Homo sapiens: one gene and its partners. The protein of the gene in region 3 interacts with the protein of the main gene of each other region in a biochemical or structural test. Each region holds a gene or a part of one and is shown on either strand. Other genes may lie near its edges. The genes, in order: KIDINS220, CCDC134, MAGI1, PLXNB1, SLC15A2, ZSCAN30 and OR8G1.

Region 1 (3,500 bases), on a different chromosome or scaffold from region 3:
GTTACATGTTTCCAAATTTTTTTTTAAAAAGTATTTCCTTTCTTATGATCCTTCCCCAGAACTAACATGCTGACTTAGGAACAGATGAAGTAGATAAAGTCTATCCTAGTATAGAGAGCAATGATTTAGTTTTACCTAATTAAATATTTCCTTGTCATTTATCAATTGTCACTGACCTTTTTGATGTAATTATTTCCTCATTCACTCATCTATAAATATTTATTAGTACCTATTATTACCCATGTCTCCCTGATTTTCCAGAAAAAGAATTCATGTTTTTTTTTCTTCTCATTGCTAAGCTCACTTAGAAAAGTTGGGCACCATTTAAAAGAGTTGGAGAACAGACCAGGGTGGCTTCTTGGGCACAGCTGGATGGTGCTGGAAGCCAGGCCTGGGATTTGGAGAGAAGAGTTTCCGACATATAAACCCACGGAGGTCACCAGCCCTCCCCGCATCTACTCTCCTAACAGCTCAGGACAGCCCCGTCACACTACTGCCAGCCCTGGTGACTCACTTTGTTGGCAATTTTTAAAGCCCTCTTCATTATGTACTTCCTACTCTTCAGAACCTCTGTGATAAGCAATACCCCTGCCATACAGAACGCTGGATCTCGGTTTACTCAGCCTCTCCCTGTAGCGTCACAGGCTGTGCACTCACCTAGGTGAGCCCCTAAGAGCAGGGTTTGCTTCTGCTTCACCTAACGCCACGTCTTCCCTCAAATGTGTGGTCACCAAATGTTTGCAAAAAGGGTCTCTAGCTTTTTTTCTTTTTGGCACATTAAGCCCTTTAAAATACTTCTGACCTATCTTTATACTCAGATCTCACCTCGTCTCAAAAAGTTTTATGGGGTAATGCGCCAATGAAAGGTACAGTAGTATTAGTGAGTTCTGAAGCTTCTAATTACAAAGACCACAGAGGCTGGCTGGTGAGCCATGCTTCTCATGCTCCCTTCTGTCACACTGCAGATGTCTCTTTTACCTCGGCCTCATCATCGGTTAGTTATCTGTCAGCAAAATGTAGAAAGGTGATGGGCGTGGATGGAGTCAAAATCCAGGACAATTCTGTCATAAAGGTACAGTAACACTCTTCTCCTTTGCTTGTTTTTCTCAAAGAATGCTTTCTCTTTCTTCTCCAAAGCCTGTGCTCTCAGAAGAGGCTGCTGCATGGAGCTCCGGAGGATCTTTGGAGAGCCTTGTGTAACTTGAACGTTGGCTTCGCTTATGTGTCATGCTTTTTAGATTCTCATTCTGAATAGTGGTTGGGTTGGGACTGGAACTAGGCCTCAAAATGACTTGAGAAGTCTCCCTAATTCCCTCCATCTCATCGAAATTTTGATTGGCTCTGTTGGCTGGAGCACTATTGTTGTTCAGAGTCACGGTGCTGGGAGTTCGGTTCAGGTTGTAGGCTTTCTGGCATGCAGGCCAGTTTTCTTCAGGGCTGCTGGCTATCAAGCTGCATTCGGAAGGGCTTTTCTTGTCTTCTGAACAAATGGACATCCGAGCTATAATTGGATCTTGCAGGCCACTCAGGCTATGTGGGATTCCCCGCTTTCCGCTGTGACTGTCATCTTCCAGCTCTATGAGATTTGCCTTTTCAAGCTGGGAGTCATCCGCCACTTCATTGTGCAGAGAGTGATTGGGAGAACTTTCACTGGATCTCACTCCTGAATCCGATGAATCCTTTTTGTCAAGGAGCGCATCCGATAAATACTCTTTGGCTTTAATGAAGGTTCTGATCGGCTCAGCACTGTGTTCTGGAGACTTCGGCACTCTCTCTACTTTCCCTTCGGCTTTTCTGTCTTTGTCATCTTTGAGCAGTGGAGTGTTATCTGATTCTTCTGTGCCAGATTCATCCTCGTCACTTGGGAGTTTTTGATAGCGCAGCCCACTTCCCTTAAGCTTCAAATCTGTCTGGAAGAGGCTTGACCTTTCGGAAGATTTCTTGCCTGGGAGAAGCTTACTGCCTGACTGATCTGATTTTTCATCTTCTTCAGTGATAGGATCCAGGGGGGAAGCATCGTTGGTGGAAACCCCTGATGATGAATAATCGATAACATCTCCCCTCTTCATTAGAAAGGACTTCCTCCCATCATCGGGCTTTGGTTCACTATCCTTCCCCTTTTCTTGCTCTAGGTTTGAATGAATAGAGCCCCCTGATGAACTCTGACCCATGTAATATGTGCTATGTGGAGAAGATCTGCCACTAATGGTTGTAGACCCGGGGCCCCCTTCTAACTGGGACATCTGAGCAATGTATTCTCTATAGGCATCTCTATACTCGGCCTGCACCTTATCAGTAAGCTTTGAAATTTCAATACTGGAATCCTGGGAATTGAGACTCGAAAGACTTGGGGTTCTGCGAGTTTGTGACTGTGAAGACAGAAAAAAAATAATTTAAAAATTCAAATAAGAAGAAAAAAGGCATAAACATCAGCTTAGGAAATATATATGTACACTAACCATTTAAAAAGTCATCAAAACATCAAATTCTTTTAAAAGAATTCTACATAACACAGATTAACAAAAGCTGTGACCTTATAATGCTGTTACTAGAAAGCTTTCTATAAATTTTAATAAAATCAGTTTATTGTTAATATTTAAAAGTATGATTAAACACTGTATTAACAAATAATCTTAGCACTTGTTTCTGGTTTTTATTTCATTTTTAAGAGACAGGATCTTGCTGTGTTGCCCAGGCTAGATTCAAACTACTGGACTCAAGCAATCCTCCCGCCTCAGCCTCCTGAGCAGCTGGGACTATGGGCATGTCCCACATGCTCGGCCACAGCACTTGTTTTTATAACTTCAAACGTTTAGCTTTTATTTAAGGCCAAAGTCAACTTCATTGATAAAATATAAAATGCAATGAGGCCAATAGTTGGGCCTTAGTAAACAGAAAAATAAAGTAGTTTTACAAGTTTATTTCCAATATTAAGTTTTAGAATTAGAATTTGCTTCAGATCCCAGAATAGCTAAGAAACAAGGAGCAAAAAGTACAGATGAGGAAAAAGAAGGAGAAGAATCAAGAAAGTTTAAGAAGGGTCAAGAGCAAAGGCTAAAACAAAAAAGAAGGAGCAAAGTGAATTTGTTGGGGACCTTCTCAAGGAAATAGGACATTTTCTTCCTTCCCCAAGGCGCTGCTCCTCCTCACCGCTGCCCTGCCCTGCCCACTCAGTGTTACTCGCTGCCGCCCGCTGTGCCTCCTCCCCCGTTGTTCTCCACACCCTGCTCTGCTTTTCCTCCTGCGCTCTCCTCACTCCCGCTACTCCTCCTGCATCTCTCACTTTGCTCTGTCCCTGCCCCTACCCCTACCCCTCACCTGGCCTCCTTCTTCTAAGAATCTCCAAAGGAAGAACGCGCCTACATCTAATGCCAGACCAGAAGAAACCAATATCCGTGAAGGGTGTGCAGGCGTCCTGGAAAACCAAAGGATGGTGCTCAAAGGGACACTATGTGGCCAGTGTTCCAATGAAGATGTACTTCAACCAACAGTTACTGAAT
Region 2 (3,500 bases), on a different chromosome or scaffold from region 3:
ATTAAGAATACAAAAACTAGCTGGGTGTGGCGGCATGTGCCTGTAGTCCCAGCTACTTGGGAGGCTGAGGCAGGAGAATCACTTGTACGCGGGAAGTGGAGGTTGCAGTGAGCCGAGATCACACCACTGTACTCCAGCCTGGCGACAGAGTGAGACTCTGTCTCAAAAAAAAAAAAAAAAAAAAAAAAAGAAATGCTATTGCTAAAAAGTAGCCAGTTAATTAGGGAGGCCACTCACGAAACGCCCATCTGCCCAAGGGGACCACTTAGAAGGTGCCACAAGAGGGCACTTCCGGGGAGAAAAAAAGAGTGACAAGAACAGGAGAGAAGGAGCAGCTAGAGAAGATCGGGTGGTGCGGAGGACAGGGCGGGGCAGGGCAGACCATACCATCCTTCAGCTTCTCGTCCTGGGGGAAGGGCCCATCTGGGAGCACATCAGCAGCGGTGAGCACTGTCCGGGAGTCCTCCAGCACCTGAGGGAATCCCGCCAGGGCTGAGTGGCTTCGCAGTGCCCATCACAGACTGCTCCCATCCCCATTTATTTAAACCCCACTTCAAGTCTTACGTGTGCGCAGTTCCCCTGTCCCTGAACACCAACCCGTTAGGGAACTCCTGTTTACCCATCAGTGCCTAGATCAAAGACTGGACCTGCCATGAGCTGCCCCCTGCCTGCACACACCTTAAAGAGCCCCTTGAGCATGACATCAAGGATCTTGTACTGCTGGTGGATGTCGTTCAGCTGTGCCAGGTTCTTCAGTGCCAACAGCTGCTCCCGCCGCTTCACCTCAAACATCTTCTTGTCTGGGCAGAATTAAGTTAAGGGGCTGGCATCAATAGCCCTGCCTGGACAATCCAGCAGTCTTGCCTCAGAAGGCTCATTCCTGACCAGCAAGTATCTGCAAGGGCCATGGACACCCAGGGCTAGAAGCCTCCAGGAAATGAACAAACTGACAAGTGCATGGACCTGCAACGCACTATTCATCCAGTTCCCATGGCGCTCCACACCCAGAAGCCTGAAACCAAGCCTCCAGACCTGGCTCCTGCCTTCCCTTTGCTGTGGTCTTCCTGCCGTCTCCACAAGCATTCTACTGTTCCAGAGCCTCCACCTCTCTGCTCGCGCTGCACCCTCTCTGCCCAGGATGCCCCTCACCCTCCTCTAGGAGTTTCTTTCCTTTCAAGGCCTGGCTCAAAAACCATCACACAGTGTTTCTCCCTGACCCCTCCTGTGCCCATCAGAGCACTGGTCACAGAGTAACATGATCATTTGTTTGGATACTTTCTCCCCCTGGGCTTATGGACACCTCAAAGCCAGGGGACTTGTTGTAATTCATCTTCGTGTCCTTGAGGCCTGGCCTGGAGCAGGTGGCCCAGTTCACCAGGGTCCAGATGGGCCAGTAATCCAGAATTCCTGAGTCTCCACCCAGGATCTTGCCCACAAGGTGCCAGGCCATGCACAGTCCTCACTGAGCCTTTGCAGTCTAGAGATGGGCCTTGTCATCTCCATTTACCATACGCGGAAGCTGAAGCTCCGGAGAGACCTGACTTGCTCAAGGTCTGGCTAGAGCACCTCACCTTTTCTCCCTGTTCCCGCCAGCTGGGCCTGCTTATCCCTGGAATCCCTGAGTAGAAGAACCTCATTTATAGACCTCTCAAAGACAGCTCATTAACTACAACCCCAAAGGATACAGATCTCCAGGCTTGGGTCCAGGGAGGTCCTCAAGGTGCCTGTGGCTCCCATCCCAGACAAAAGCAGGACAAAGAGGAAGGCCAGGAATTGAAGAAGGTCCATATCCAAACCTCTTGAGCTGGAAGAATAACCCAAAGAAAGAGAGTGAGACTCAGAGATCGGTGTTACATAAAATAGAGTGCACAGGTGAACAGCAGCTTCCCCCGACATAGTGCAGCCTCTGTATACCAAGAACCCAGCTTTGGGGAGCCCTGAAGCTGCAGCTCTTATCCCAGGGCCAGCAGGCACACAATACAGAGCCGTGGGATGCTAGGAGGTGGGGAGAAAGATAAGTGTGTGTAACACAGGAACACTTAGAGCACAGGGTCAGTGGCTAGAGCTCTAGGCTGGAGCCCTGCCCCCGCCCGTCTCTGGGACCTCGAGCAGCTTGCCCAGCCTTTCTGAGCCTCAGCCTTCTCAGCTGTAGAACAGGGATAAGGAGGTCACCTCCCTGCTGCAGGGAGGGAGGTCTGGGTGAGGCACTGTGCCTGGGGAGGAGGGGCTCGTCAACAGTATTCCTTCCACATCCCCTATCCTGGTCTCCCAGGAAAGCATCTGGTCAAGGAAGCCCAGGCAGAGAAGATATGAAACTTCTGGAGTTTTCCTCCTTCCTTGACTTTTGTCATCAGAAAGTAAGAAGGGACAAAGGGCAGGGAGGAAGGCAGGGCAGTCTCGGGGTAAGGGGGCTTGCTACTCACTCACTTTGGAACCATAGGTACTACATAGAATACCTGTTCATATTCAGGCAACATGCAACAATTATTTATTTATTTTAATTTAATTTTTTTTTTTTAAGATGGAGTTTCACTCTTGTTGCTCAGGCTGGAGTGGAATGGCGCAATCTCGGCTCACTGCAACCTCCACCTCCCGGGTTCAAGCGATTCTCCTGCCTCGGCCTCCTGAGTAGCTGGGATTACACGCATGCGCCACCATGCCCAGCTAATTCTGTATTTTCAGTAGAGACGGGGTTTCTCCATATTGGCCAGGCTGGTCTCGAACTCCCAACCTCAGGTGATCCGCCTGCCTTGTCCTCCCAAAGTGCTGGGATTCAGATGTGAGCCACCGCGCCCGGCCCTTTTTATTTATTTTTTCCTTAGTAGAGATGAGGTCTTGCTATATTGCCCAGGCTGGTCTCCAACTCCTGAGCTCAAGAGATCCTCTCGCCCCAGCCTCCCAAATACTGGGATTACAGGCGTGAGCCACTATGCCCAGCCAACACAATTATTTATTGAGCACTGTGAAGTTCACTTTCCTGGTGATTCCCAGGACATACATTGCTGCCTTCCACCCTTCCTCTTTCTCCCCTTGAAAGGATGCATCTTTTCACTTGGCTGGGGTGGTAATTCTCTTAAATGTTTTTTGTTAGTTCCTGTAATTTTTTTTTTTTTTTTTGAGACAGGGTCCTGCTCTGCTGCCCAGGCTGGAGTGCAGTGGCACAGTCATGGCTCATTGCAGCCTCCACTTCCCAGGCTCAAGCCATCCTCCCACCTCAGCCTCCTGAATAGCTGGCACTACAGGTGCATGCCGCCATGCACGGCTATTTTTTGTATTTTTCTTAGACGTGGGTTTTGCTACATTGCCCAGGCTAGTCTTGAACTCCTGGGCTCAAGTGATCCACCCATCTTGGCCTCCCAAAGTACTGGGATACAGGTGTGAGTCACTGCACCCGGCTACTATAGCTTTTTTCTCTGGTTCTAACTCTGCTGTTACGGCCTGACACTCAAATATTCTGTCTTGAGGGCCTAGAAAAACAATGTTTTCCTCTAGTATAACTT
Region 3 (3,893 bases):
ACTGAGGACTCTTCTGATTGCCAAAGATGTGTATCTATTCTTAGCTCTGTGAAGTATGTCCTTTTACAGATGAGGAAATGGAGGCTTCAGAGGAGGTTAAGGAATGTGCCCAAGAATCACACCAGAAGTGATGAAGCTCTTAGCTTGGCAGGATTTGTTTTATTATCAGGGTTCTGTGCTATACTGTGCTGTGCTGTTTAAACTTTCATGTGCATAAGGCATAGCTGAGGATCTTATTAACTGTACATTCTGACTCAGTAGGTCTGGAGTAGGGCTGAGAATCTGCATTTCTAACAAGCTCCTCAGTGATGATGAGGCAGCTGGTCCACAGACCACACTTTGAGTAGCAAGGCACTATGCTATTGCAATGGCATAGATCCTGCTCTTTCAACACAACGGCATTTCATCAAGTTGGAGTCAGGGGCCCTCAATTGATTACTTGACCCTGATACATTTGAGACAACATAGAGACAAGGAAGATATCAATCCAGAAGCAATAGTGGTTGTGGAATGCATACATTTCCATGTATTTTTACAGTAAAAATGCATTAAAAAATCTTTCACAAAAGAAACTTAAAAAATACAATTAGGGTGTTGAGTCCTCCCCCCCAACATTCTTTCAGGCATCAACTGTGTAACGGAGGGAGACAAATTCCTAAATCGTTTGATTTCATCATACAAAATACTCATCCATTATCTCTCATCAAGACATTTACATTAAGTGGGGGAGGGGGGCGGCGGGATTAAGGAAAGTAGGCTCACAAGAATCAGTTTCCAATTTAAGGTTACAGCAGTTCAAAGAAAACTATATCTTTCTGCATAATGCATAGTCCCTGTACAGTACAATATTTCCAAACAAATCTGATGTGTGGAATTCAGGTGAAACTGCCACACCAAAAAGTCCACGGATTGAGACAAGCCCAGGTGGGTAGCACATAGATTTTAAATTGCCAAATATCATCTTACAACAAGAAGGACATCAAGATGTTAACTTCAGGATATATTCCCAAAATCCACCTTGATTTCATTTATTTAAAACTCTGGATCACAATTGAGAGCATCAGTCATTTAACATCACAGATTTTGTTAGAACTAGTGAGAAGAATCCTAGCAGTGGAGCCCTGGGAATAAAATCTCCAAGTCAGCTCTTAGGAACTTGATGAAAAAGAACATCATTATTCAGTTGTACTCTTCCTCAGCCTTACTACAGCTCAATGTATGCTTTGTATGGAAAACTTTAATAATAAAAATAGCATTCACAGACTTTTCCCTCCTTTTTAGCTACAGAATGTATATTGTGTCTGTTCCAGGAAAGGAACTTGTTTTATAAATGTCCACACAACTACAGCTACTCATTCTAATGTTATGTATAAACCCATAAGTCAAATAAAGCTATGAACAATGTAATATTTATATATGCATAGTGTTTTATAAAAAGATTGGCCCACATACTGCTTTTCATCAATACAGAAAGAGCATTAAGTCCATAGCACACTGCAAGAAATAAATGAGTGAAGAACAGAGAATGCAAACAAGTGCTTAATAATTCACAAGCAGGCTCACCATGGAGGAAATGATGATATTCAAACCAACTAAAGCTTTAGAGAATTACTTATATAGTCTCCCATTTTAAAACAACTTTACATACCTGATTTAGTTTACATTAAAATATATCCCCATGAATCAATTTGTTCCATATTCAGAAATATAAACACGTATCACATTCCTCACAGCTAAATTTTGTCATAAATTCTCTTTTATACAAGAAAAAAAGGCAACAGTTGTTTTCTTTTTTTTCCCAACAGGCTCTATTAATTACAATTTTTAGCTCTGTACACGCAATGATTGGCTGGTTTTCTTTTTTTTTTTCTTTTTCCTTTTTTTTTTTCTTACAGTACCATGGGAACAACAGTGATTGACTTGCAAAGTTTTCTGTCTCTATGGAAAATGCAAAACAGTACTACAGAAATACACAATGCACTGTAAGCAGCGGTTTGCTGTAGTGGTCCAACAGGTACAAGCAAACATTTTGGCTCAGCTAGGCAGTAATCCACTTAAACCACATCCCGGGGCTACGGCCGACCCAACCACAGCTCCTGTGGGATCAAAAAGAATGGGTCTGTTTAAAAATAAAAATTGTTATGTTTTGTGCTGCTGTCCAAAGGACTCAAAGGACAGAGTCATGAGGCAGAAGTTTCCCAACCAGACCTAGAATCACTGGGACCACTTCCTTCCTTTCCCTTCTACCAACCTAGAGACTTGGACTATGGTTTCAAAGTGAAATTGGCATTTCTAACAATGAATACCCACAGCCCTCACTTCTTTAAATATCAACAGAGAGGTTCCTTCCACCAAGGCTCATTGCCTCCTCCCCAGTTTGGCAAAGGGCAACCATGGGCTTCTACTAAAAGGGAGGGGGGCATGCTTTCCAAATTGGGGATCTTACGTCTTCCTCACACCAGGCACACTGTCCCCCCATTCCATCTACTATTCAGCCTCCAATCAGACGAGACAACACGAAAGATGCTTGTTGTCTCTTCCTCGTAGTAATTGAGCAAAGCTGTGATGGCATTGCCTTCAATGAGATTTTATCAGATGTTGGTGATGATCACGAACCTGACTGTCTGTGCTTGGGCTGTATTTGAGTAAAAGTGGCCGACATTTTTGTCTGTGTGCCTTCCTGGGCCAGGGAGAGTACAAACTGTTTTCTGAACCAACTATAACTCACAATATAAAACTTCTTTGTGCTGCGCAGTTTAGCTATAAATATCCTTCATTTGCAATAGTAGTCTTGTCATACAGTTTGCTTACTTTTAGGATCATCGGCAAACCTAATCCATCCCCAAGGGTCCTCAGCTTTTACAAATAAAACTTTGCATTTTTGCTCTTTGCTTTTAAGAAAAACTTCCGACTACAGTATAGCACTACATCACTACATGACAGTCTATATCAAATTAATTAAACTTAATCAATAAATTCCCTTACGTAGAGAAAATGATCAACAGCCCCATTTAACCAGGAGAGAAAAAGATTGCCCCAAAACGGGAACAATTCTTGACGATTCTACAGGTTACGTAGAAACAAAATTTATATCCCTTTGGGCCAGCATTTGGCAAATAATTTCCAAAAAAGTATGCATTTAAAAATACTTTCTTTAATATGATACATCAGGCACAATACTTTTCATATATATTTTTTCTTATAAGATTTCAAATGCATAAAATGTTTGTTGTTATTCATAGGATCATCAGGTGTCAGATGCTTCATTAGGTAAGAAACTAAATAATTTCAGGTTTGTGACTTTCCTCTTAGAACCTTTGACACGGTAAAGGTTGGAATGTGACTCAGCGTCTCAGATACTGAGGTCGGTGCTACATTCTTTGTAAGGTCGCCTTCTCTGCTCCGGGGGATGTCTGGAACTTCTGCCGGCATCCTGTTTCAGATTCGCCTCTTCCCTTTCTCGGTGGCTGGCTCTGTCCTCTCTGTTCCTTTTGTCCAGGGACCGCTCTCTCCTGCGCTCGGGGGAGCGTGCGCGCCTCCGGTCGGTGGACTTGGCCCTGCGCTCGGGCGAGCCCCCTCTCCTGCGCTCGGGGGACCTCCTCTGCTCCAGGAGTCTCTCCAGAGACCGTCTCCGCCGGCTGGGGGAGCCGTCTCTCCTGCGGGTGGGTGACCGCTCTCGCCTCCGCTCCGGAGAGACGTCTCGTCTCTTCTCGTGCTTCTCCCTCCTCTCCAAAGTGTTGTCGGCGCTGCGGGTGCCCTCCCTCCGCTTCTCTGGGGACCGCCTCTTGGGGCCGTTGGCGGCTGCCGCGCGCTCGGCCTGCGCGTCCCTCCGTCCCTCCGGCGCCCGGTCCTTGGGTCGGCATGCCCCGCTGTCGGGTTTCCTCGAAGTCCCA
Region 4 (3,500 bases), about 17 Mb from region 3:
TGTGGATGGTGTCCTGGTCGGAGATGCCATGCTGCTGGGCCTGCTCATCCAGCAGGTCAAAGAAGTACTTCACAGCGAGCGGCACGGGGCGGCTGGTGCTGAGAATCACCTGGAACAGGTCATCCACGAACTTCTGCAGGGTGCCCTGTGGGAAGGAAGAAGCAGAGAGGTGTGGTCAGCAAAGGGCCCTCAGCAGCAGCCCAGCCTCAGACACCCCCCGGCACTGTGCCTGCACGAGCCCCACACCACCCCCAAATCCCACGAGTGGCCATGCTCCCTCTCAGCCCAGGCCCCACTACCTTGGCAGCCCCACCCCACCTTCATGGACAGCAGGCGGGTCAGGTAGATCTCAGGGATGGCCTTGGCGCGCTCACGCTCCCCGCCCCGAAGGCTGCCCCTCCGAGGCCTGGGCGGCTCCGGCTCATCACTTGGCTTCACCAGGTGCCAGGGCCGGATGCCCCCCTCATCTACATCCTCCAGCATTGGGGTCCCTGTGCCAAGAGCCCACAGCTGTCACCCCTCCCCAGGTGCCACCTCCCCAGGCCCCCTGTTTCTTGCCAGCTCTCCCAGGGGTGGGGGCACCTGGTTGAGGGATTTCCTGGGCCGAATGGAAATAGGCACAAGCCTGCCCTGAGGCCCAGAGGACCTTCCCCATGACTCCGGGCTGGGCACAGCAGGGGCAGAGGACCGTGATGGGAGCGGTACTCACGCTCTCCAGGGACATAATCCTGGTTTTCCCGGAGCACATGCTTGGTGAGGCAGGGGACGAGGGCCACAGTTGCTCCATCTGGGACCTGCTGAGCACAGCTGGTGATCCCTCCACCAGTCCCACCCCACCATGCCCTCCTCCAGCTCCCACTCCTCCTACCTTGTAATGCTGCAGTGTGTTCAGGCGCCTCCACAGACCCTGGACCTCAGAAGTGACATCCTCGTCAGAAAGAATGAGGTGCCCGGCCACCCCAGACCGCCACTCTGCAAGGGCAAGGCAGAACTGGGTGCAGGGCTGGAAGATACCCTTCCCATAGTGGAGCCCATCTCCTCCTCCACAGGGACACCAGCCCCTCCATCATGGGGCAGCCTTACTCAACCTCTCCAAAGACCAAGAGCAGGGACCCCCTCCCCAGATGAGAGGCTGTCCAAGAAAGATGTTCCAAAGCCAGCTTCTGCCTGCCTCCCAGCATCCTCCCCACCCTGAGTGATGAGTTGTCCCTGCAGAGTTGGTCCGGGGCCAGCCCAGGCCCAACAGTGGCTCAGGTCCCCAGGGGCTCTCCACGCCCTCACCAACATCAAGGGTGCGAGGGTCTGGCCGCTGGGTGAGAGGCACTCCTTTATAAAGCTGGTCCAGCATCTTCTCCTTTGCCTGGGAGATGGTGTCACAGTCTAGGACCTTCACGGGCACGCCCTGGGCCTCTCCTGCCCCAGGCCCCACAGCCAATAGTGCATTCAAGGTCTGTGCAGGACACACAGGAGCCATCAGGGTTCATGTGCACTCAGGATGACCAAGACACAGGCCAAGGGCAGAGACAACTCATGAGAAACTGCTGCCTCCAATCCCCACGCACCACACAATCCCTAATTCTCGTCTCTTCACCTGCCTGCCTTCCCCAGGGACAGCAGCTTCCTCCCCATTGTGACCCCAGCACCTAGCGCAGTGCACTTGTAAACCACTATGGGGTAAATGGCAGAAAAAAATGAGTGAGCACAAGTCCCTCATCACTCAGATCCCCAGGTTCCTGGCTGAATGGGTCAGGCTGACGGAGTTTCGGGAAGCCTGCATTCCCACCATCGGGAGCAAATATTCCCACCTATCCGACAGGGGAGGGGTTCAGCAGGCCTGAATGGGGGTTTCCCACAGGAACCCTTGTGCGTAACTAAGGGGAAAGCAAACCCAGAGAGAAGTGCCTGCCAGAGTGAGGCTGGCTTGGTGGGCAAGGCCGCATTCCTGGTAGGAGGGCCAGGCAGACAGGGTCAGGCCCTGACACAGCTCAAGCCCATGGTCTAAGGTAGGGCTGGCTTCTCCCAAACCCTGGTTGTGGCTACCCTAGTTCCATCCCTAGCCTGGGGCACATAGAGGCCTTATCATCAAAGTCTGCCCTAAACTGCTATCCTGCTAAGCTAGTCTGATGGGCTCTCTCCAGGAGCCAGCCAGAGGTCAACCCAGCTCTACATCCAGGTACCACATCAGAAGCTGGTGTCCAGACCCCACACACCCACACACTCTCCACCCTCGCCCTCACCGCACTCAGACTGCAGGCCACACACTTGCACACCCTCACCAGGGGACGGTACTCCACATCCTCTCTGAGCAGGCGGTTGTCGTTCAAGGTGTATTTGGCCTTGCCTGTCACACTGTCCACTGGCCCCTTATCCACTTGGTGCTTAATCCCTCGAAAGAGCATGTACAGAGGCTCCCCTACGGAGTCCTAGGAGAGCACAGGCAGTTAGGGCCCCCCAGCAGGTGGCAGAGGTGTATGGGACATGACGCACACTGGGGAAGGGGACAGGACATGGGCTTAAGGGGACTGAGGACAGGCTGAGCAGGAGTCTCTGCTCTGGCACAAGTGTCCGAGCTGCATGGTGGCTGAGGGCTTAGAAGTTTGGAGGGCCTGACCCTCCCTGGACAGGAGCCCTGTCCACCTCTGCCCCCTCACCCTCACGAAGGTATACAGACAGATGGACATCCAGTTGGTGAGCAGCTTCTCCACCACAGTCTCTGTCCTGAGATGATGGGAAAGGGGAGTGCCAGGGTCAGCAGGTGGGGCTGCGGGCCTCTCTATCCTGCAGACCCCCCAGCCCGAGGCCCCACCCCAGCTCCAGCTGTCCAGGGCCCACCCAGCCCCAACAGCCACACAGACCTGCGCAGCATCAGCTTGGGGTTCTTGGCCACATACTGGGCAACCAGGTCACTGAGCAGAGTGCGGAGGATGTCAGTGAAATACTCAAGCTTCCCATGCAGTGCCACGGTGAGCAGAGATGCCACGTAGGCACGGTCCCGAGCTGAAAAGGTGCGCTGGCTCTCCAGCGTGTGGATGAACTGCAGCCAAAGAGAAGGGATGGGAAAAGGGGTTTAGGGGGACAGAGGGGCGGGCTCAGAAACCATGCCCTGGAGAAGGGGCAGGGCCAGGGGCAGGCCAGGAAGATGCAGCTGGGGGTACCTTGGTGAGGAAGAGCTTGCTGTTGAGCAGGTTAGAGAGCTGCCCCAGCCCTTGCTCCACAGTGGGCCGTCTGCTCTCAGGCACACCCAGGTCCCGGTGCAAGGGCGACTCGCGGTGCCCAGGGAAGAAGATCCTCTCCGCATACACCTTGTAGTCGAGGAAGGGGATGCCGCTGCCCAGGAGGTCACTGGTGAGATCGGTCATCTCAGTCATGAGGTCTGTTAAGCAGAAGAGGCCAGGTTAAGCACCTGTTAAGCACCAATCCCGTGTGATGGGAGTGGGTTTGGGCAGAGTTCTGGAGGGCGGGGCCCATTCTCTCAGCCACACCTGTGAATTCCTTCTTGC
Region 5 (3,500 bases), about 57 Mb from region 3:
GACTTCCACTTCTGTGATTACATGAAAGTCTCAATAGATATCTCTCTTAACAACATACCATTTTGTCTTCTCTTGGCTCCTGCAATTTTGATAACTCCAAAAGTCAGGAAATGTAAGTCAGCTCCCTCTTTATGAGATTTGCCAGCCACTCCCACAGTTCAGCATTCTGTCCTTAGCGCTGATATACTGAATGTGCTATTTAGGTTTGTGCAAAAGTTATTGTGGTTTTTGCCATTGAAAGTAATGGCAAAACTGCAATAACCTTTGCACCAACCTAATAAATGAGAAGCTAAGAACCTTGTTTGTGTATCAACTGCAGTTGTGTTTGCAATGGGAAGCAAAATATACAATAAACCACCCCCTGAAGGAAACATAGTGGCTCAAGTTTTCAAATGTATCTGGGTAAGTCCATAAATTGTTTTCTTGCCTTTTTCAATCAAAAGAAAGAGATGCTATGCTGAGAATATGGGCCTTCAAACGTGGGCATACATTTTTCTCAATGACCTCTATTCTATTTTCATGTTTTTTAACAAGCTAAGATTAACCAGTCTTCTTCTTATGCCTCTACTTAACCATTAAGTTAAAAAAAGTAATCATCTTTTTAAGTTGGCAAAAATCTTCTGAAATGTAATTATATATAGACAGATAACATTTTTTCTTTTTTGTTGTTATTTTTTGTTTTGAATGGCAAGTTCTTTCTTAAAGTGATAGATAAAATTATATCAGAAATATTCTGAAATTCAATGCCTGATTAGGTCAAAGAGTTGGAATAAGTCACTAGAAGTATGGTGTTTGAAGGAAGGTATAATAAGTTGGAAAAGGCAGAGGATGTTTTTCTCTTTGTCTCTCCCATGATGTCTACTCTCTGCCCTAGTTTGCTATTTCCAATCGTTTCAAGAACCGTTCTGGAGACATTCCAAAGCGACAGCACTGGCTAGACTGGGCGGCTGAGAAATATCCAGTAAGTTGGAAATGCAGAAACATCTTATGGCTTGATAGAGTCTTTCCTAATGTTCAAAATGATTCTATCCTACTGCATTCAACCTCCTCTCTACTGTTTTTTGGACACTTCTACTTTAAGCAAGAAAGCCATGTACAGAACTTCTAGCATTTCTGCCCATTCTTCCTCCTTTTCGCAGAAGCAGCTCATTATGGATGTAAAGGCACTGACCAGGGTACTATTCCTTTATATCCCATTGCCCATGTTCTGGGCTCTTTTGGATCAGCAGGTAAGAATAGTTCTTTTGGACATTACCGCTCCTTACAGCCACTTCCCTCTCACAGGAAAGGGATTTCTCATAACAGGATCTGTTTGCCCTAGGGTTCACGATGGACTTTGCAAGCCATCAGGATGAATAGGAATTTGGTGAGTAGAAGAGATTTTCCAGAGAAGTCTATTATTTTCTTCATCATCCATATTGGGGAAAAATTAATTTCTTTGTGATTTTGCCTGAAAACTAACAAGATCTTCAGAGAAGTGCTTTTAGCCTGAAGGTACCGTGTAGGCAAAGATAAAGAAAGCTAGTTTAGAAATAAAAACCAGAATCTTCTCTTTAGAAATCAGGAACATAAGGATGAGAAAGTTTCAATGTATACAAGGAAGTATTGAGAGGCTAGCAAATGATGTGATGCGTAACCTGGGATAGTGATTTTCTTCTGTCTAAGCCTATCCCAGAGTACAGCAGGGACAGGTTTGAGTGGCACTACTACGCAATTGGTCTATCTCTTCAACAAGGATCACAGCAGGGGACCTGTGGGAAATGGAATATTTTGTATGTATGGATATGGAAAGAATGAGAAGGTTATACGTATTATTTTCTCTTTTTCCAAACTCCATTCTTTAGCCCACTCAAATAAGGTACCATCTCTACTCTCAATTGTTCTTTTCCTAGATTAGTGTATTATTTTTCTATCTTCTCAGTTTTTGAAAAGACAGAGTAGAATGATACCAGGGTCTTATTAGTCAGTCTATTTGGAGCCTGCAAAATATAATTTTACCTTTTCCCTTCCTCTGGCTGTCTCTTATTTACCATGGTGGTCTTCTTGTTGACCCTCTGGAGAACAACTTTGGAAACACTATGTGTCAGGGAGAGTCTTCACCCTAACCATGATGTCTTGCCCTTCATATTATTACAACCTAGAACTGCAGTTGCTGAGATCAATAAAAATGCACTGACTCTATTCTCTTTCAAGTTAAGGAAAGCATAATACATAGAAAATAATTTCTCCCTTAGGCCCATCTGCCTGGCAAACATAGCCAGAAGCTTTCCCAAGTCTGTTCCCATCCCCCAAATAATCTTAACAGCAAAATAGTGGCCCTGAACCAAAGACCTGATGAATTTTCTCTCATATGTTTCTCACTTGCTAACTAGCAAAATTATTGATCTAGGCCAACATTTTTTTTTCTTTTCTTCAGACATCAACTAAATTAATTTGTTAAAATGTTTCAGGGGTTTTTTGTGCTTCAGCCGGACCAGATGCAGGTATGTGACTCTTCTATAGCCATGGGGACTTATTTGTTTCCTTATCTATGCCTCCACCTGCAGTATTACGATTAACAACCATAATTTGATGCTTTTCTCCTTGTACGCTGATAAGGGCCAAGCTTCGACATGAAAACATTCCCATTAAGCCCCACCCTTCTCCTTCACATCCCCTGTTAAGTACTTAACTTGCAACGGGTTAAGTGTAAGCATTGGATTTTTTTCCAAGTCAAGATAGTATAATCAAAATCTTGTAAAAGAAATTGTAAGGCTTATTTTGTGAGCAATGAAGTCATGAGAGGAAAGAGCTCACAATAAGGCTGGCAGAAAGACAGGCTCAGAGTGAAACTTGTCCCTTGGGATATTTGAAAGCTAAAATGCTATGCAAGGGAAATAGGGTCTTGGGTGTAAATGGACTGAGGAATGTGGAGTCATTCTGTACTTACAATGACAAAAGTGTGTGTAGATGTGAGACAGAGTGTAAACAAGCAAATGAGTGCAGTGCTCACACTCATGATAGGAGAATATTTGTAGCTAATCCTTTTTATCATGGTGTTACAGGTTCTAAATCCCCTTCTGGTTCTTATCTTCATCCCGTTGTTTGACTTTGTCATTTATCGTCTGGTCTCCAAGTGTGGAATTAACTTCTCGTAAGTGTTCACTATGTCTGTATGGATTACTCTAAATTGACTCAGTCTTTGCCCAGTTTGAAAAAGATTCAATGTCAGTATTTTTCTTAGTGAGGATTGGTTTTAGTTTATCATCTATCTGCTTCTATTTTTCCATGTTAGACTAACTGCCTATTGACCCTGAAAAATGTGAATTAGATATAATTAATGAGAGTCAAAGCCATTACTGTGGACTTAACTGTGTAATGGTGGTGGAGGGGCAGGTCTAGGTTTCATGCCAAACCAAAAATATGTGAAATTTAGCTCCTAAACCAACTTTCTTCTTTGTTCTTGAATGTTGTCTCTTCAAAGAAACTCAAGGCCTTTGATGACTACTAATCCCTTTAAA
Region 6 (3,500 bases), on a different chromosome or scaffold from region 3:
CACACCACTGCACTCCGGCCTGGGTGACACAGTGATACTTTGTCTCAAAAAAAAAAAAAAAATAGAGAGGAGAGAGACAGAGAAGGCAACCACCATTTATAAAAAGAGAGAGAGAGGCAGAGAGAGAGACATAGAAGGCAAGCAACACTTACTGAAAAAAAAGAAAGAAAACACACACATACACACACACACACAAAACACCATGACTTGGCTTTCAGTTATTTAACAGATAAAGATTTTTCAAGGTGATGCCAATGACCTTACTGATAAAAAACAAAGGGAATTATCTGACCTGAACTCAACTTTAAAGATCTTGGGGAATTATAGTATTTCTTGATACAAGGCCAGTCACTTCTGTCAAAGTGAACCTTGGGAACTGTGATTACACTGGCCATTATTTTCTTTTCTGAATCAGAGTTTTCAGCACTGGTTCTGAGTTTTAGGAAGTCAGTGTCAACTGGACATGCACACTGACATGTCAAAGATGTCTTATTACCCATAATTTAAAGATCTTATTCACAACAAACATGTTAATACTTGTTAATATTTATTTGAGCAGCAGCCTACTTGTTAATATGAGCAAAAGGCAAGTTAATTTTTAATGTGGCTTCACAATTTTGATTTATTTCCTTTTTTTCCCCAGAACTGGAAATTGATTTTTAAATTGAAATCCCTTCCTTGTGAAAATTGTTTACACAGTCTAAGTATCAAAGAAAATTAATTTCCAATACAATACATGATAAGCAAAAGTCCACATGTAGGTCTTTATGTTCATTTATCTGAGGAAGAAGTCTGCAGTTTTCATCCTTTTCTCAAATAAATTTACTATCTCAAAAAGATTGAGAATCACTGCTCTAGAGCGTATGCCTAAGTTAGACATATATTAGTACACATGTTAGTTTGACCTAGTTTCCCCCAAGTGAAATGAGAAATAGAATTCAGGTAGAATATTGGTGGTGGCCTATCAGTTTCATTCTTGAGAATTTTATATCACTTCCCATGCCTGTATTATCACTGCTAATCTCTCTGGAAACCCTTCAATTCCATTTACTTCATTGAGAGGAACTTCTTCAGTGTCAGCTGATATGGACCATAGTTGGCTCAGATTTGTTTTGGCCAGTCCAACAAACAAACTCCAGGTTAGCTCATCAAACTCACACACAGAAAGCAACATCTCTGGCAACACTCCACAAAGCTACAAATCTAACATAATCTGAAAGAATGGTTTGGCTTCCTTGGTCAAACACCCAAAAAAATCTACATTCATATCATCACTTTTGGGTAAAAGGTTAACAAAACACTTTACCTTTGTACATGAGAATTAACCTTTGGTTAATTTTCTCATTCTGTTTTATTGAAAACTTATTAATAGGTCAATTATGTTACCCAACAATATTGTTTATGGTAAAAATGTTTCCTGATTACCAAAAGAATTATAAATGAACTATAAATATTGACTATGCTAATGGATACTATAACTTTGGGCCTCCCTGAGTATAGTGACTCTTGTAATTGGCATGTCTCTTACAGAAATTCTAGAAGCTATGTCCATGGAGTTGCTATAAGACATATTAGCTCCTGTGGAAGTTTCTAATCCAGATGCATCCCACAGGTTCCCAATGTAAGTCTCATCTCCTTGCATCTGAGCTGTCAACTTGGAATGGGAAGGCCAAAAAAAAAAAAAAACCCTGCATGCTTGTGTAAAATACTGTGAGTACCACTACCACCGAAGAGGGGTAGGTGCTGCCTACTGGTCAGCTGTGGCTTCTGTCCTATCCTTCTAAGTTAATCTGATGCCAAGGGTGATCTGCAGTAGTCTTGAAGGTCTAAAAGTCTAGTTGAATTCAAGAAGAACATTCTGGTGGGCAATGATATACACCCAGCTTCTTTTGGAAACTACTTGAAAATTTATGTTTCTTCCTTCTCTCATCTTATCATCTAACACAATATGTGTTAATAGTTAACTTTATATGTCAGTATTTAAGTTATAGGATATGAAAGAAGGAGGGTTATCATCTGGGAGCAGAATGAATGCCATTCATGGACCAACAAAAAGACTATTTTCCTCTTTTGGGAAATGGTTAGCATGTTAATAGTTATGTGATAGTAGTGTTATGTAAGGTGAAAGCACAACTTCATTGTTATCATAATTTGGAGAATTAAAGTATGGCTTAAAGAAACATGTATGGTACTAAGTTGACAAGGGGCAGACCATGATGCTTTTATAATGTGTCATCTTGCTTAAAGTGCACCAGTTTTCCTAGAATTATTTATTTTATGTTTACAGTTTGGGCGGGCCAAAAAGGCAATTTTTGGGAGATGTGTAATGTGGAAAGGAAATAGTAGCCATTTGTAGTTCACATATGTTGTTGCTGACTGGTGACTCACTTTGTTGACTCATTTTGTAGCAGCTTGGCCTGCAACTACTCTACCATCCTCTAGATCCTCCTTCAGCTTCTCCAACTCCTGGCCTATGTATGTGTGTTTATGACAAACAGCCCCAGCTTCTGAAGGATACCCTCACCACCAAGGTCAAAGGCAACAAGAACTAACATGGATTTCAGTCCATTTTCATGAGGTTCAAGTTTGTACTTGTGACTTCCAGCCTGACCTTGACTTCTCCCACTTTACTTCCATCTTCCTTTCTGACTACTCTGCCAACATCAAATTCTAGCATCAGACACAACAGCATTATAAGAGTGCCTAACTAGCTCTCATAATTGTGTAAGCCAATTCTCTTTAACAAATCCATATGTACATATACATATATTCAATTACTTGTTTTGTGTCTCTGGTTGAACACTGACTGATATATCAGGGATAAAGAAGGTCATTTCATTATGAAAAAGGAGTCAATCAAGAGGCATAACAGGCTGGGCATGGTAGGCCACACCTGAAATCCCAGCACTTTGGAAGGCTGAGGCAGGCGGATCACCTGAAGTCAGGAGTTTGAGACCAGCCTGGTCAACATGGTGAGACCCCGTCTCTACTAAAAAAAAAAAAATACAAAAATTAGATAGATGTGGTGGCACGCACCTGTAGCCCCAGCTACACCAGAAGCTGAGGCACAAGAATAGCTTGAACCCAGGAGGTGGAGGTTGCAATGAGATGAGATCATGCCACTGTGTCACAGGATACTTGGGGTGTTGCTTTTCTAGTCAGAAACCTCTGTGGCCAGTGGTGCCTTTGCCTGAGTTTTGCTTGGGCCCACTGGGATCGTTCTGCCCACTCAGCCTGGCAGGCTGTGCTTGGCTAATGCTACCAGCCTGTATCTCGCCCCTGCCAAGGGTGAGCCAGGCGTGAAGTAGCAAGGGATGTGTGAGCGAAAGAGTGTGGGGTCTGGCCACTGCACACAGTCAGGCACGCTGGCTGCTGCAGCAGGGTGGGCAGCTCCAGGTGCCAGTACGGGCCCTGGCTCACTGCAAGGCTGTGACTGGACTAAGTACACCACAGTGGTGCCCAGAAGCTTGGAGACTCCAGGAAATGCAGGGCCCCAACGG
Region 7 (4,077 bases), on a different chromosome or scaffold from region 3:
AGGTTTGTTACATAGATATACATGTGCCATGGTGGTTTGCTGCACCTATTCTAGCTCGCTCTTTTATTCAGCCATCATTACTGAGAGACAAGGGGTCGAATACTGACCCGAAGCCAAAATGCATGAAAAGTAAAATGACACATTCCCTGCTTTAATAGAACTCTCAATCTAATTCTATCCTGTTAACAATGTTTTCAATAATTTAGTTAAGATTAAAATGGAAATGAGTGATCATTTAATGTACAGATAAAATAAAACTGGAAGAAATAGCCAATACAATGAATACGTGAATTGATTGTTTATACAACCCAACAGGACTGTGTTAAGAAGAAGAGAAATACTGTTGTAGAGACTTGATACTAAGTCTAATATTCACCATAATAAGGGATGATGTGTCAATTATTTCAATAACTGAAGTAAAGTTAGAGAGGCATGCAACTTTTGAATGGTTTCCCGAACGAATTCAGAGCTATTCTGTTATATATACATTTAAAAATGTATTTTCTATTATTTATGTGTCCTCATGTGATCACTATAGGATCAATATGAGGCTCTGAAAAATACTTTACATGTACACAAAATATAGTCTTCTGTTAATACAAGAACAAATAAAAAATATAGGGCTCCTGGTCTATTATGTTTACTCCTGCGTGTTAAAAATTGGGTATATATGACAGTAGCAATAAAAGGTCTGACCAAAGCCAGCTAAGTAGGGTTATAAATTATATAATATCAAAGAATAAGGTAAGGTCACTGAACATCATGAATATCAAAAGCATTTTTCTCTACTTTTTTAGTCATTTACGTTTTTGATTACTTTAATTGTAATCATCATAGTAGGGATTACAGCTGGGAAGAGTTCTATGGAATTAAACTGTGAAACTTTCTTTTTGTGAGTTATACATGGATTTGGGAATTGACAATTCCCCATGGTATGGTCTACACACACCCTTTGGTTAACAATATTCCCAAGTTACTGTAACTTCAGTCCTAAAATATTATGACAACCAGCAAAATGTGGTTGGTTCTAGACACTGAAAATAGCTAAAAAAAACAAGCTAAAATTGAGTGAGAAAAATACTTAACTTCCAGTCTTAGTTTAAATGATTAATTCTTTATGTACAACATATCTGGTTTGAATACAATTCATAAGAAAACATAAAAGTGTACTTCTGTATTAACTAAATGAAGTCCATAGAATAGTGGATGATGGATAAAGCAAGGGGAGATTCAGATTTCATTTATAAAAAAAATAATGGCTAGACTATGATGACTAGCAATCCATGTAAGATCTGTAACATAGCTTCCAACTCATATGCCATGGAACTGAAATGTAGGGAAAGGTTCATAATGGTTCAGAGGTATTGGTCTGTAGCCCTCGGGTTCTCACAGATAAGACTGTGGCATTCAGAGCCAGTTCACTGGTCACCATCAGCCACAAGCTTTCTCATCCAGTAACTTCATTATGCCATATTAATATGACCATCTTCTATGTGCTCATGAGGTTAGAAAGCACCATTCCACACTTATCATATTACACCTGGAGTCCATCGTTTTCCAATGGATATATTTTTAAAAGAAAGACATTGATAAGATGGAAGGCACACAAAAGCTGTCAAGAGCTTGGGAAATATTTGCAGGCAATGAGATAATTAGTGAGCATTTTCATGTATCCTAAGAAGAGCAAGGATAAGCTTTAATTTTGTGTGTGGCATTTGAAAGATTTATGAATACATCTTTTAATAAATGTAACTAACCTGCACAGTGTGCACATGTACCCTAAAACTTAAAGTATAATAATAATAAAAATATATAAATAATTTACTACTGAAAAAAAATAAAAATAAATGTAAAGGAAAATATTCTAGTATTTGAGTTCTTAGAAGTTGAATGAGCTACTTATTCCTGGTCATAAAATACACTGGACCAGAAATCAGATGATGATTCACTTTCAGGGACACTGATGAACAGGTTGCCTTAATTACACTTAGGATAAAGTACACAGATTCATGCTATCTCTTGTCCCTCTTCACTTTTAGTTCCTGTGATCCTCCTCCTTGGCTACAGGAACACTTCGCTTCTTTCAGTTCCTAGAGTCTGTCACATTCACTGAGCCTTTTCATTAGCTATTTCTTTTACATTAGATAGTCTTACCAACACCTGTCTTTCTGATGTCTGGTAAATATTTACTTTTCAAATCTCATTTAAAATGAAGTCATCATGTAAATATTGTCCAGTTTATTGTAATTAAGTTGATCTTCCTACTGTAAGCTCCAAAAACTCTGATTTCCAGACAGCACATTTTCTTTGACTGAGTTATTCTATAAGCCCAGTGATGGACCCGAGCTATTCTCCTCTGTATCTCTAGTAACTAGCAAAGTGGCTGGCCCACTGAAGAGGGTTTAAAAGAGCATTTCATAAATAATTGAATAAGTAAAGATAATGAGGAATAATAGTTTCCTGATTTTTTGCAAAGATTATTTCCAGATCTAATAGTCTCAAATCACAAGTGATGGATGAAAACACTCACCTTTCCACTGCCTAAAAACTTCAATGCTTGATTTTACTTGCAATTTCCTCTTCCTGACATGGAGAATGTTGGCTTGGAATGTTCTCTTCCTGACATGGCATTAATGTTGGTGTTGAGAGTCATAGACACCCAGCATTCTGGAATCTTTAGTGTTGAGAGGGCAGGGCCCAGCCCTCAGTCTCAGAGTCACTTTGAAGCTGGTCTGCATCACAGGTCAGTATTTCTAATTATGACTTTGCAGTTTTTGTTTCTCCAGCTTCAGGGTGGCAAGCATCCTCACCTGAGCAGCTCTGATTGCTGTGCTATAAAGGCTTGCCCTGGGTTAAGATATGCGAGGTACCAAAAAACATGGAGACAAATACTCTCCCGGGATTTCCATTTCTCAGGGACCAAATTCTTGGAAAAAACCAGCAATTACACTTGACATTTCCCCAGTTGTCTAATTTTCCTGTAAACGAATTCCCTGTCAATTTTAAAATTGTCAATTGGTGGTAAATATTTGTGCACAAGGATTATCTCTGCTAAAATGCAGATTCTAATGCAATAGGTCTGAGTGGAGCTTGAAATTCTGCATTTCTTACATGCTTCTAATGTAATTTAGTTCACAGCACACACTGTGATTAATATACTTGAGAGGACTAGGCACATCCTGACAAGTTATCTTGTACTGATAATAAAGTTAAAAACTTTAAAATAACACACTTTTTATTTCCTTGCAAATAGACATATTTAGTTTTAATTTGTGTGTAAATAGGTAATTTATATAGTTGACTGAAAATTCAAATCTGTTTATAATTGTATTTCAGGAAGCATGGTGTAATAATTTAGGGATTGATATAATACTTAATTTTTGAGTTTCTTTGTTGATTTAAATTCTGCCTCCTAATTTTTATAACTGAAGAAAGTATTTAAGTTTTGGAGAAGTTAGTTTCCATATAAGTCCATATAAGTGCCCCACTTCTTACTTTTTATGGTTTTTCACTTTCTTCAAAATAAAATTAGATGAAATTTTATATTGAATGTGCATCAAATAAATGAAGGAATTGAAAAAGACTATATGGGAAGTTACATATTAGAAGCTCTGAAAAATCGTACAAAACACTAGGTTTGATTGTCTTTAAAGAGAATGAAGTAGGTCTAGATCAGTGATTTTACTATGGCTGCACATTTAAAATCAACAAGGAGTTTTTTTTCATAATCTCATCCTAGATTACAGCCCATGGCACATTGGACAATAAGCAGGCAGCACAAATTAGAATAGTAAAAGGCAAAGCAGTGGGCATACTGGAGTGTACAATCACAACACACACGTGGGTCTGCAACTTTGACTCTAAAGTTTTGAATAGGTTTCTGAAGTAAAAAAAAAAAATAATGGAAGAAATAAGGAAGACAAGTTTAGTTAGTTGAATCGGGCAGAAAAGAGACTGCTGCAGGCTAACATTGTGCAAAAACTAGAGATTACAACTAACACATTGTCATGATTTCTGTTATTTTTTGAATGGAAAGAATAAATGAGGTTGGTATCACTGTTGGAAGATGATATTTCC

What was found.
Region 1: the proteins of MAGI1 (region 3) and KIDINS220 interact in a test that uses a peptide from one of them, tested with the Homo sapiens proteins (one large-scale study listed by IntAct).
Region 2: the proteins of MAGI1 (region 3) and CCDC134 interact in a test that uses a peptide from one of them, tested with the Homo sapiens proteins (one large-scale study listed by IntAct).
Region 4: the proteins of MAGI1 (region 3) and PLXNB1 interact in a test that uses a peptide from one of them, tested with the Homo sapiens proteins (one large-scale study listed by IntAct).
Region 5: the proteins of MAGI1 (region 3) and SLC15A2 interact in a test that uses a peptide from one of them, tested with the Homo sapiens proteins (one large-scale study listed by IntAct).
Region 6: the proteins of MAGI1 (region 3) and ZSCAN30 interact in a test that uses a peptide from one of them, tested with the Homo sapiens proteins (one large-scale study listed by IntAct).
Region 7: the proteins of MAGI1 (region 3) and OR8G1 interact in a test that uses a peptide from one of them, tested with the Homo sapiens proteins (one large-scale study listed by IntAct).

The regions. Positions count from the first base shown.
Region 1 is NC_000002.12:8,729,614-8,733,113, forward strand, and holds part of KIDINS220 (kinase D-interacting substrate of 220 kDa), read right to left. Parts: intron 2,370-3,500; coding exon 1,107-2,369; 3' UTR 1-1,106. UniProt on the Homo sapiens protein: Promotes a prolonged MAP-kinase signaling by neurotrophins through activation of a Rap1-dependent mechanism. Provides a docking site for the CRKL-C3G complex, resulting in Rap1-dependent sustained ERK activation.
Region 2 is NC_000022.11:41,807,179-41,810,678, reverse strand, and holds part of CCDC134 (coiled-coil domain-containing protein 134 isoform 1 precursor), read right to left. Parts: intron 1,805-3,500; 5' UTR 1,789-1,804; coding exon 1,686-1,788; intron 801-1,685; coding exon 679-800; intron 473-678; coding exon 388-472; intron 1-387. UniProt on the Homo sapiens protein: Molecular adapter required to prevent protein hyperglycosylation of HSP90B1: during translation, associates with nascent HSP90B1 and the STT3A catalytic component of the OST-A complex and tethers them to a specialized translocon that forms a microenvironment for HSP90B1 folding.
Region 3 is NC_000003.12:65,353,026-65,356,918, forward strand, and holds the end of MAGI1 (membrane-associated guanylate kinase, WW and PDZ domain-containing protein 1), read right to left. Parts: coding exon 3,353-3,893; 3' UTR 501-3,352; downstream 1-500. UniProt on the Homo sapiens protein: Plays a role in coupling actin fibers to cell junctions in endothelial cells, via its interaction with AMOTL2 and CDH5. May regulate acid-induced ASIC3 currents by modulating its expression at the cell surface.
Region 4 is NC_000003.12:48,409,587-48,413,086, forward strand, and holds part of PLXNB1 (plexin-B1 precursor), read right to left. Parts: coding exon 3,483-3,500; intron 3,374-3,482; coding exon 3,156-3,373; intron 3,035-3,155; coding exon 2,856-3,034; intron 2,719-2,855; coding exon 2,652-2,718; intron 2,424-2,651; coding exon 2,277-2,423; intron 1,451-2,276; coding exon 1,282-1,450; intron 973-1,281; coding exon 869-972; intron 798-868; coding exon of another isoform or gene 795-797; coding exon 710-794; intron 492-709; coding exon 319-491; intron 146-318; coding exon 1-145. UniProt on the Homo sapiens protein: Receptor for SEMA4D. Plays a role in GABAergic synapse development. Mediates SEMA4A- and SEMA4D-dependent inhibitory synapse development. Plays a role in RHOA activation and subsequent changes of the actin cytoskeleton.
Region 5 is NC_000003.12:121,921,901-121,925,400, forward strand, and holds part of SLC15A2 (solute carrier family 15 member 2), read left to right. Parts: intron 1-319; coding exon 320-402; intron 403-874; coding exon 875-961; intron 962-1,139; coding exon 1,140-1,229; intron 1,230-1,321; coding exon 1,322-1,366; intron 1,367-2,450; coding exon 2,451-2,483; intron 2,484-3,044; coding exon 3,045-3,133; intron 3,134-3,500. UniProt on the Homo sapiens protein: Proton-coupled amino-acid transporter that transports oligopeptides of 2 to 4 amino acids with a preference for dipeptides. Transports neutral and anionic dipeptides with a proton to peptide stoichiometry of 2:1 or 3:1.
Region 6 is NC_000018.10:35,280,230-35,283,729, forward strand, and holds part of ZSCAN30 (zinc finger and SCAN domain-containing protein 30), read right to left. Parts: intron 1-3,500. UniProt on the Homo sapiens protein: May be involved in transcriptional regulation.
Region 7 is NC_000011.10:124,239,818-124,243,894, reverse strand, and holds the start of OR8G1 (olfactory receptor 8G1), read right to left. Parts: upstream 2,801-4,077; 5' UTR 2,531-2,800; intron 1-2,530. UniProt on the Homo sapiens protein: Odorant receptor.